Linked DNA regions of Homo sapiens. The protein of the gene in region 2 interacts with the protein of the main gene of each other region in a pairwise test. Each region holds a gene or a part of one and is shown on either strand. Other genes may lie near its edges. The genes, in order: SLC5A7 and SEC14L1.

Region 1 (4,268 bases), on a different chromosome or scaffold from region 2:
TTCATACAACAACTGTTGGTCAGCTGTTTGGTTTGAAAAATGCAGATCTTCTTTATGTGATTGGAACGAATATAATTGGAATCACCTGGCTGACTCAGTCAGTAAGCATGAGACTCTTAATGGATATTATTCTATTGATTTCTTTGATTTACAAAAGACCTGTGTACAATGGTAGAATGTCTTTTCCAAGAAAAACAATTTACATTTGTTTTTGAGCTATGATATATATTGCCCCAAGACTTACGTGAGGTGCAGCATTTCCACTTGGCATTTGCCTATCCTCCAGTAATGAGATGGTTTATTTTGATTTCATTGCATAATTGTCTTGAAGCACCATATATACTTAGTTTAAGAGAGGGCCCCCAAAAGCCAAATTTAGACAATGATACCCTAAATTGACCAGCACAATTTAATACATTGCCATTACACTTAAAGCATTTACACAGTTGCAAATATACTTATTTTAAGCATAATTTTATATAATAATTTGACAGACAAAAATATATGTTCTAGAACCATTATATGCATCTGTCTATGAAGTAGCAAACGTACAATAAATTACACATCATACCAGTGTAAATTTACATGAAGGCTAAAACAGAAAAAGAAATCATAATTTATGTTTAAAATATAATGTTAATTTATTATTTCCAAGTAAAAAGAGGAATAGCCATTTTATTAGATTCACTTATTTTAAGCTTATATTCGTTTCATAGTCACATAAAATTCATTACTTGTAAGTGTAGCAATGAAGTTGTATTTTGATGCTGTTTGAAACAACTTGTTGTTGATATTGCAGTCCAGCTACAAGCTTGCTGATTTGAATATGTGTGGGAAAACAAAGCATTTAAATTACTCAAGAAATATGTTACAATCATATCAAAAGTATGAAAATAAAATATATGTTTTCTTCTAATGTTTTATCCACAGGTGTTGCCTTCCCAGATTAATATAGCCATTGTCTAAATGTTTCGTTTATTTTATTTTCATCTGAGGGCAGATTTTGAAAATCAGGTCTACTGATTGAAGCTGGAAGAACATGTAAATGTCTGCATTACTCATTATGTCAAAACAGAGCACATGATGGGTACAAAGTATACTCTTGCACATTTCACAGCTTTGTGATACAACTGTCTTGGAAATTGGGTGGAAATTTATGCACAAATGTGCATAAGTAAAGACCTTGTGACCATTGTTTCCTTCCTTGCAATCTTAAACTTTTTTGTACTTAAAAATCATCTTGCTAACATTTAGCATATTTGTGGATTAATAACAAACTAGTCTTTTGTATACCTACTTTGAGGGTAGGTGAGGAATAATGGGTTAAATACAATATAATATTATTTATTGGCTTAAATTATTTAAGTTATCTAGTTTTAGTACTTTGAACAGGGCAAACATTTTCCCCCTGTTTCTGTCTATTGTGAGAAATTGAATTACGTGGAAGAAATTTTTACTGTTAACCTTTTTTTCCCCACTGGATTTAAGTGTGGTTGTTGGGACAATTGTTGCCCAACAGAATGGTACAACGTAAAGAGAGAGACCTGTAGAGAGACTATGCCTCCCTGTTGCATTATATGACAGTATGAGTGAGGTGTTTCCTGATGCACATGGTGGAAGTCTGTGCCTCAGCAGGTTGAGACAGATGCTCAGGGTGACAGGATGGATAAAAACCGCCATTCAGGTAGCATGCTGGGTAGCATGGTGCATCTGGAATAATGGTGTTTGCCAGGAATTGTAGTCTCCAGCAATTAATTACTTTTATGTGTCAAATGTTTCAGTATCTGTGGTTTTTCTTTAATGAATTTCTTGCCCCTTTCTCTTTTTTCAATCAATACCTGAGAATCGTGGACTCCCATACTTACTGGTTCCAAAAATATACTTCTTCCATGTACTCCATAGGGTACTGAATAGATTCTGAGAAAATAGATGAATATAAGTAATTCTCTTTTCATTTAGATACATATGATATTCAGTGAAGATTTTGAATGCAATGTAATATTCACCATCAAATTTTGAGAAAGCACTGAAAATATGAGACATGTAAAATTATTTAATTTCCTCTTTTAAAAATTATCCTAGACATTAAATTCATGTTTAATGATAAAGATGTATTATTTGATGCTTTGAGACAATTACAATTAAATCTTATAAAAGGAATTCTAGGGTCAAGGTACAACTTTTATTTTTAATGCTAAACACTAAGTTAACTTCATTTTGTTCATGAGTTGCAGAAGTATTTTTGGAAAAGAAGTGCTTTAGTTTCAACAATTCAGACTCACTTTCTTTATGGGATCAGATTCCCTGATCACTTTTCAGCTCATCACTTCACTTTGCTTTTGTAGACATGGCTCCAGTAATTTCTATAATGTGTGACTGGTGTGAAAACACTTGAAATGGACACAAATCATTACACATACACACACACACATACACACACACACACGTATGAGTGTGTATGTGTAACACCAGAAAAGGAGCAAAATAGTATTTAATGACCAATCTCATGAATGTTATCTAGACATCAAATGTTAAAATTGATGGCTTCTTCACTTTAGGACTTATTTTATTTTTTGCTTTCTTCTACATTTTAAAATTCACTATGTACTTTTTGCAGTAGTTATTTGTCTAGTCTCTAAGGCTGGCTTATGTGAAAAAGTGCCAAAGAGTAGATGCTGTAACATTAAATCTTTCCTATTAATGAATATCTAAAAATTAGTAGAGTTTGTTTTTTTCTAATTTTACTACTATCAGGAGGTGTTGTGGAGGCTTCCCATAAAGTATTCAATGAAATATACGTAAATTTAGCAGTGTGCCTCTCATTAACCGTAACAGATGCTGTGTAGCTACCTCTCCTTACATAAGGCCTAATTTCACTTCCAATATTAACTTATGTATTAATTTATATGTTACTTATTTTATCATGGGGCAAAACTTTATATACTTGAGATAAAGACAAAAATGTACTGTTCTTCCTATTACCTTCTGTTTAATGAACTTATTGCTTTAAGGTTGCTTAATAATCCTTCAGGTACTGTTGTTTATGCATATAGTAGCTATGGAAACATACAAATTAGCCCAGTGCTCTTCTACAAAGATGGATTCAGTTTTCCTATCACCTTGCACATAAATAAATGCCAATACATAATCTTTTGTGTGTTTTCTTTGCCCGTGCTCAGAATATTACATGCCATTAATAAAAGAATAACAAATTGCATATTCAGCAAATGTTATAGCTCAGAACATGAAAGAAGGGGTTAATCATCACACTAAGAAAAATCAGCTGGTTAATTCATTGCACCATTCAAGGGAGTGACTGAAGTTATTCTCATAGCTTCGTGCTATAATGAAACTAGACTCATCAGTGCATTAGCAAACAAAGTTTGTATCAAAACTGTCCAATTTCCTTTTTCTTAGGCTTTTTCACATCTACTTCCTTTTATCATAACAAATATAAAAACTCTATTTGGCCCTTTGTTCTCTAAGTGGAACTTTACTTATTTTTTATACCTAGCAAAACTATCTAGCATCAAAATCAATACTACTATGGATGAGAAACAAAGTTGTTGCTTTCATAGGTGCTTCCTTCTAGCTTGGCTTGTATTTGTGCAATTGCACTTTATATGAATTTTTACTCTCCTGAACATTGTTTATATTTTTAATATATTTTTGTATGCTGCATACCATCTCTCCAGAACTACCCTATTACAGTGTTCTGTTTGCAAAAGCAGTATTTTATTTAGATGGGGTCACTGTAAATTATCTTCAGTCCCAGACCCTTCTGGACTGGAATCAACATCAAGGAAGGCCTCTTTATTGGTGAAAGTTGAGCTGAGGGTCATGCTCTGTCGTGGCTTCACAAGTGCAAGTTCATCTAATTTAATATTTTCATTTTTGACAAGAATTGTCTTATCCATGTTTTCTTCACTGTGTCTTGCAACAACAGCATCAAATACATCTAATTTAGGTGGCAAGGTTCCACTTTCAAATAGATACTTGGCTAGATAGGAGATGCAAATGTTGGTTAAGAATGATGTAACCATGGCAAGTGTTTTAAATGGAAATTTCTGATTATATATACCATTATCATCAGGGTAATAGCCAGGGTAGAAGATCAAGGGCTGAAGATACAGATATGGCTCCCCTCCAGTTATTCTCAGGAAGAGGCCAGAAACATAACCTGCCACGGCCCCATAGGTGTTGGTTCCCTTAACAAAGAGTACACAAAGCAGCTGGGGGAAGATAACGATGTAAACAAGGTCAGAACT
Region 2 (7,297 bases):
TGGGACTGGCTGGAGGAGGTGGTGGCGGCACTCAGCTGGGAGAAGCCGCTGTGGCTGGACTCCAGGCTCGTCATGGAACCTCTGTAATGGCACAGGGAGGGGCGAGGCGTGAGGACCACCCTGCCAACCACCCGCCGGCCCACACTGCCTGCTGGACTTCGTGGCCCACCCTGTTCTCTGCTCACTTCTCATCCCCATCAGTGCTTGCAAACGGGGGATGGACATGAGTAACCCACCAGGGGGACCGGCTTCCCACAGCCTGCACGCAGACGGCAGTGTGAGCTAAAGCAAAGGCAGTCAGTCGGCTCTGTCTCCGACACTCTCCCTCTGCAGACAGGCAGGGAGTCACCGTGCCAACAAATGACCCCAAAGCCACTCCCTCCTGGCCCTCCAAGCATTCCTGACACCCGCCGCCACTGCTGATCCTGCACACGGCGTGGGACTGCAGGCTCCCTCCAACCATGCCCAGCTGTCCGCAGCACCTGCTGTGGCGAGGGTGGCCGCACCTGAAATCCTCCGAGCCGATCACCTCGGTGTAGTACATCACTTTACACTTGTGCGAAGAGACCTGCAGGGACGCAAGCACGTCGTCCACCCGGGGAAGGCTGCTGGCGGCGCACGCAGGCATGCTGTGGAATTTCCACTGCAGGATGTAGAAGCCCGGCCACCTGGTCACATGGGAACCCTAGAACAAGTAGGGCAGTGGCAGCTGAGGGCGACTCGCTTCCGACCCCTGGCCTACCACAGGCCTGACAAGCGCCAAGGGGACTGTCTTTAGGATTTCATGTAGCTACGGAAACTATCTCAATGGGATTCAGAACCTGCTATTTTGCTTCAGCAGCAGGTTTGACAATGTCCTTCCCTCTACTGAGTGTGGTCACTCCCGGGTGCTGGGAAGCCCGGAGGGACAAGCTCCATGTCCGTGGCCCTCACGAGGCCTGCCCAGCCCACCCCACCTACGGAGGCAGGAGCCTGGCAGGCTGGTGGCACCCATGCTGGAGGGAGGGCTCAGCACAGCTTCCCTGGACCTGGCCTCACTTTCTCTGACATGCTGCCAATCATCCAGCATGTTCGGGGCTGAAGGCACGTCACCCTAAAGTGAGCCGTCAATCCGTGGAAAGCTCCTTCTCCATTCTCTCCGAAATTCATGACTGGTTAACACAGCTTAGCTGTTCATTGTTTTTAAAATGGACAAAGGATTCTTTTACTCTGCCTCTAAGACCACTGAAACACTGACAAGCCTTACCCCTGAAAACTGTAAAGGCAGCAAAACGATGCATCTATTATGAAGGCCAGAAGCAATGCCCCCGCCCCGAGGCTACTGTGAGCACAGGCACCCAAAATAACCAGCCACAATGTGAAAAGGGAACTGAAAGCATTTGAAACAAATTAGAAGGTTTGGTAATGAGAGCTAATAGTTCTCTAAGTACTTGTCCCTCTTACTTCTATTTAGGGTGATTTTCCTTTGAAAAAGACAAACACAACCCGGTGAAATGAGGCGGGGGGGAAAAATCCTATGAAGCCCAGCTGGGCCCGTGCGTGCGATGCCTTCCCTTCCTGTCACAGGCTGCTTTTGGGAAAAGTCGCAGATTCTGTCCAAAACCACTGCGAGGCCTGAACTCCTTCCTACGAGACCCACTTGGCTTCCTGCTCCTCCAGGCAAGCTGCTCCTCCACAAGCAGGGCCTCAAAAGCTACACAGGGCTGCTCAAGGAGCGAAGCAAAGAGTCTACTCAAGACAGAATCACCTGGCCGTGTGGAGTCACGGATGCGCGATTTGACCTGTGTGTGATTTTACCTGCACGCTTTCTCCTTCTTTGCAGATCAGAGGCGACTCCACCATGCTGTAGTCGCGGCCCAGCTGCCAGACTTTGTCTATGAGCTGCACATTGTTCCCACCCGGAGAGGTGATGCTGTGGGCTCCCAGGGAGTCCTTTTTGGGTGGTTGTGGCGACCTCTTGGAGTGATAGATGTTAAACACAATGTCCCCTTTGCACACGTCGAAATCCCAAGTGATGACTGACGAGGCATCCACAATCTGAATGAGAATCTGAAAAAGAGGCAGCGTTAGGCAGCCACGATCCACGAGCACCAGGCCGGCATGCTGCGAGCGCATCGTGCTCTCCAGGGGATCCAGGGTGCAGGTGCTGAAGCTGGGGAGGGAAACGCTGAATGCGTATGGACGGATCTCTTTCCCCAGAGTCACACACCACCATCCATTCAACCGCTGGATCCTGCTACATGTCATGCACCAAGCTCTGTGTTCTTTGTGACCTGCACCTAGAGGTCCAAGATCTCCCATACACCATCTTCACACACACTCTAAGAGGCCAGGTCTTAGAAACACCAAACACTGTGAGCTCGTACATGAGTGGTTCAGAGGACTGCCCTGGGCTGGACAGAACAGAAGGCCCTGGAGAAGGTGAAAGCTAAAGAAAGAGCAGGCAGGGGAGCCTGAGGACAGCGTTCCCAGCAAGGGGGAAGCAGGGGCATGGAACCGGGCCTGCCGTGTGAGGCTCACACGAGAGAACAGTGGCGAGGCTGGGTGAGCGGGATGAGCCCCTGGCATAGTAGAGATGGGGTTGAGGTGGTCACCCCCTGGGTGCTGAGAACCAATTGAAAACCAAACTTACACAGCACCGACAGAGCTACCCAGGAGGGAATAATCAAAGTTAGTTTCAAAGATTGGGCGGGGGCGGACGTGAGAATGAAAAGCAGCTGTGCAGAGTTCTGCAGTCACTGAAAACTCCACCTAAGGAAGCAGCAGAGCCAGGCCCACGGCCCCTCTCAGCCCATGCACGCTGTCTGCTGTGCCCTTCAGCGCGTGGCTGCTCTACGAGCCGGGCCCCTTTAATCCCACCACTGCCACCTCACCACTGAAACGCCACTTCAGAATGTCCTTCCACAGCAGATTCAGTGAGGTACAAGGGTCCTGTCTAAGAACAGCAGGCGGCACCACGTGGCACGGCCCCCTCTTCAGCAAAGTGGCTCCCCAGGCAGCTCCATCCTGAGGCCTCGGCCCCCTGTGCTGACGGAACCTCTTTCCTGCATTCACAGTGGGGGCCTCCGCTTCAGCCTTCCTTTCAGTTTGTTGCCATCTCGGATCTGTGCTTTATTTAATACCCAAAGCAGAACGGAGGTTTTTACCATGTGGATGTCTACAGATGCCCCCGATTCACACGAAACACACTGCACCCCAAGTTCTTGAAACATGGACAAGAGCGATAGTGCCTAACAAACAAGGAACAAGGACTCGGTCCCTGGAGCCTGCCCTCCCGGTAAGAAATGAATACAGACAATCCTCAAGACGTTATGAAATCTGAGATTCCTCTATGTATGTATCTACAAGTAAGGCACACCAAATCTGTCTCTGCTTGTTCAAACCATGGCAACAGCATTCCCTTATCCACCTGCCCTGCAAGCACCAGGTGAGCCACTCAGGAAGACACCCCAGCAGAAGCCACTGGCAGATGGCTGACCCAGGTGCCACCACGGCAGGAAGCAGGCCGCAGTCAGCTCCCGGCCAGCACCATTGCCCAAGCCAGCACCACATCCTCACTGACACCTGCTCTGCACAGAGTGCCACCATCCTCTCCAACAACTCTGGGCCACGAACCTTGTCCTAGCTGAGAAGGGAGATTCCGCTGCAGGCCCCTCCTGCTTCAGGTCACTCGTGATGCTACAGGACAGACATATGGCATGCACAGGAACACGGAACGCCCTTGCTTCTCTACCAAAAGTGACAGCAAAAAAGGAATACAGGAACACCCTCCTTGCTCCATTAGACTTACAGAAATCGGAAAATCCCCAAGATATCTATAAATAACCAAAACCCAGCCAAGAAAAAGTAGCAAACGGGCCAGGTACAGTGGCTCACACCTGTAATCCCAGCACTTTGGGAGGCCAAGGCAGGTGGATCACCTGAGGTCAGGTGTTCGAGACCAGCCTGGCCAACATGGTGAAACCCCACCTTTACTAAAAATACAAAAATTAGCCAGGCGTGGTGGCGGGTGCCTGTAATCCCAGCTACTTGGGAGGCTGAGGCAGGAGAATTGCTTGAACCCATAAGGCGGAGGTTGCAGTGAGTTGAGATCATGCCAGTGTACTCCAGCCTGGGCAACAGAGCAAAACTCTGTCTAGAAAAAAAAAAAGAAAAAGTAGCACATGAAACTTGTTCAATATAACCATGAAATAAACTAAATTCAGGAGTTAAGTGCTCCAACAAGGAAAGATTAGCTATTCCTATCTCTGTGTTTGGTGGCTTTAGTAAAATGGAGGTCAAGAGATCCAATTTCCTTTCCAGGCACTCTGATCAAGCACAGCTAGTTTCTATTCTGAGAGAGACCCATTCTTCGACGTTGACATTTACTGAAACTAAATATCGAGTGTCAACAAAAGCCTAAAGACAAAGAGCAGAAAAACGAGTGGACTGTTCTGAATGAAAGGCTGCCAGGAAGCCCTGCGAGGGCCAGGCCCTCTGCGGAGGAAGGGCCGGCCCAGGTGCAGGAAGGCGGAGGACGTACCTCATGTGGGGCTCCTTTGAAGACGCTTGCAGACTGGTAGATGGTCTCAGTCCAGAGCTTCAGGTCTTCGTTCTCCAGCTCCTCTGCAGTCCGGTACAGAGATTTGGGGACCAGTCCACCCTCTGGCACTTCGCACTGGAAGAAGAAACACAGCAGTGAAACCTGTGCAAACACAAACCAACCCCACGAAACCCAGACACACCGGCCAGCACTATCCCCCTGCACTCAACTTCTGGAGGTTGCTGAGAAAATGGAAAACACTGGCAGGGTCGTAAAACACTCTGCACTACTGAGCAATATGTTTTTAAAAACCACTTAAATACATGTGTTTTACTCTGCATAAACGGGAACAAGTTGAAGCTGATGTACCACAGAATTCCTACTAAAATGCGTGAGGCACTGCACCCAGTTACTAAAGCTGACTCATATAAGCATTAGGGGTATTTATATTGCCCTGTAAAGGAAAAGTATTACTTTAAGAAAAGAGTTTTGCTCTCAATAGCCACAGGCATTATTTTTATGATAGGGAATTATAGTGAAGATACAGAATCAATGAATAATGTTTTCTGTCTAAAGTCAAATGACTGGTCTATAACACCAGCCAAAAACTAATGAAGAACTTCTTTTGAATTTGCCTGAAACAAGTTGAATTAGAACTTGTACATAACATAAATCTCCTAATTGACCTTGACACAATGACTCCACACTAAAGTTCATAAAATCGAAGTCCTCGTTCTATTAGCCTTGGGAAGCAACTACATAGAAAATAAACATTTCAGTCTTCAGCCTGCAGTACAGCATAAGTGTCAAAGCAGTGATGTCGTGGTGGAAAAATACCAGACTGCCCGCTGGTTAGTAACCTCCGGCCACCAGAGAGCAGGAGGGAACAACCTCCTTTCAACAATCAGCCTCAACAGCAGCTCAGGAGAGAGGTGAAGAAGCCTTAGAAGGCCCAAGTTTTTGGACAGTTCAATTAACCACAAAGACGCTCAGCACCGCAAACACACTACGGAGGTCGGCATGTGACAAACAGGCACAACGCGGTGAGGCAGGTCTCCTTGGGCTCCAGCTCAATTCTTCGTGTCATAATTGGAAGCAGCAACAACACGGGATGGCTAGCTCATATCATGAAAGGAGTTCAGAGGTTTCTACGAACCTGAGCCTGCGGTTTAACCTCATAGGCGCTTGCTAAATTCTGGTCCTATAACCTTTACTGTAACTTACTTGCTCTTTGCATTGTACTGTGATGATGCCTGTAATTTCCTTAAAGTGGAACTGATGAAGTGAAAGCTAAATTCATTTGTTTTCTAAATTTCTCTAACCATTCAGAAAGTCCAAAGTCCCCTGAATGTCCAATTCATTAGCTAAATACCTGAGTCAAACCCAGTGGGTACACATTCCAAACGGGTAACTTTTCATATGAAGGATGACTAGAGAGCCCTTCTGAAAAGGAGCTTCACTCCCTGCTGAGTTCAGCCACCGCCGTGTGCCATGGAACAAGTCACTGGGACTTCTAGAGGCTCTGGCTTCCGTAATGCTCCCAAGACACAACTGTGCACCATGGGCTAGAAGCCTATAAGGACCCCAAGGTTCTGAGCTTCTCTGAGTACAGGATATAGAAGTGGAGGCCTCTGCTTCATTACCCAGCAACTCAGTATATTAAAAACCCCAAACGTATGTTGAGAACCACTTCCCTTCGTTTTTTTACTTTAAAAATGTTATCCAGGCCAGGCATGGTGGCTCATGCCTGTAATCCCGGCACTTTGGAAGGCCGAGGTGGGCGGATTACTTGAGGTCAGGAGTTTGAGACCAGCCTGGCTGACATGGTGAAACCCCATCTCTACTAAAAATAAAACAATTAGCTGTGGGTAGTGGCGCATGCCTGTAATCCCAGTTACTCCAGAGGCTGAGACTGAAGAATCGCTTGAATCTGGGAGGCGGAGGCTGCAGTGAGCTGAGATTGCACCACTGCACTCCAGCCTGTGCAACAGAGCAAGACTCCATCTCAAGAAGAAAAAAAAAAACCAAAAATGTCATCCAGTCTGGGGCAAAATAGTGAGACTCTGCCTCTACAAAAAATTCGCTGGGTATGGTGGTGCACGCCTACAGTCCCAGCTACTTGGGTGGCTGAGGTGGGAGGATCACCTGAGCCCACCAAGTCAGGCTGCTGAGCTGTGATCGCACCACTGCACTCCAGCCTGGGTGACAGAGCCGGACCCTGTCTCCATAAAAAAAAGGACGGGGAGGGGCGGGTGGGAAATTTTGAGAACTGATTCAATTTTTTAACAGTATTTTAGAAAATATGACAGCTCCTCTAAAATTGTTTAAAGATCTGATTCACACAAAGCCGTGTGAATCAAAGCAAGCTGCAATCGTATTTGATTCTACGAATTCTCATTCGTATTTAACAATGAAGAAATGTACAGTATCAACAATTACTTCAATGGTTCTCTTTAGCTTAACCCTGGATCAGAGAAATGGCGGCCAAAAGAAACAAAACAAAAACAAAACATCCAAACAACTGGAAGTTCTGAAAATCATTTGTGCAAATCGACACCGACCTCTCCCACCTGCATAAGGGGCCAAATGTGCAGTTCCTCGCCTCAGGACATACCATGCACTCCCCACTCAGGAAATCTGGAATAATCTCTTTGTCGATGTAATCCAGCAGGCCTCCAGGACCCTGGTAGTCATTTCCTGCATAAATGAGGAACTTCCTTCTGGTGTTGTCATCAATGAACGGACTAACCTGTGAGGAGGAGAAGACCATGCAGT

What was found.
Region 1: the proteins of SEC14L1 (region 2) and SLC5A7 interact in a two-hybrid assay, tested with the Homo sapiens proteins (one study listed by BioGRID).

The regions. Positions count from the first base shown.
Region 1 is NC_000002.12:108,010,343-108,014,610, reverse strand, and holds the end of SLC5A7 (high affinity choline transporter 1), read right to left. Parts: coding exon 3,750-4,268; 3' UTR 617-3,749; downstream 1-616. UniProt on the Homo sapiens protein: High-affinity Na(+)-coupled choline transmembrane symporter. Functions as an electrogenic, voltage-dependent transporter with variable charge/choline stoichiometry.
Region 2 is NC_000017.11:77,206,702-77,213,998, reverse strand, and holds part of SEC14L1 (SEC14-like protein 1), read right to left. Parts: intron 7,272-7,297; coding exon 7,137-7,271; intron 4,658-7,136; coding exon 4,523-4,657; intron 2,050-4,522; coding exon 1,798-2,049; intron 686-1,797; coding exon 507-685; intron 82-506; coding exon 1-81.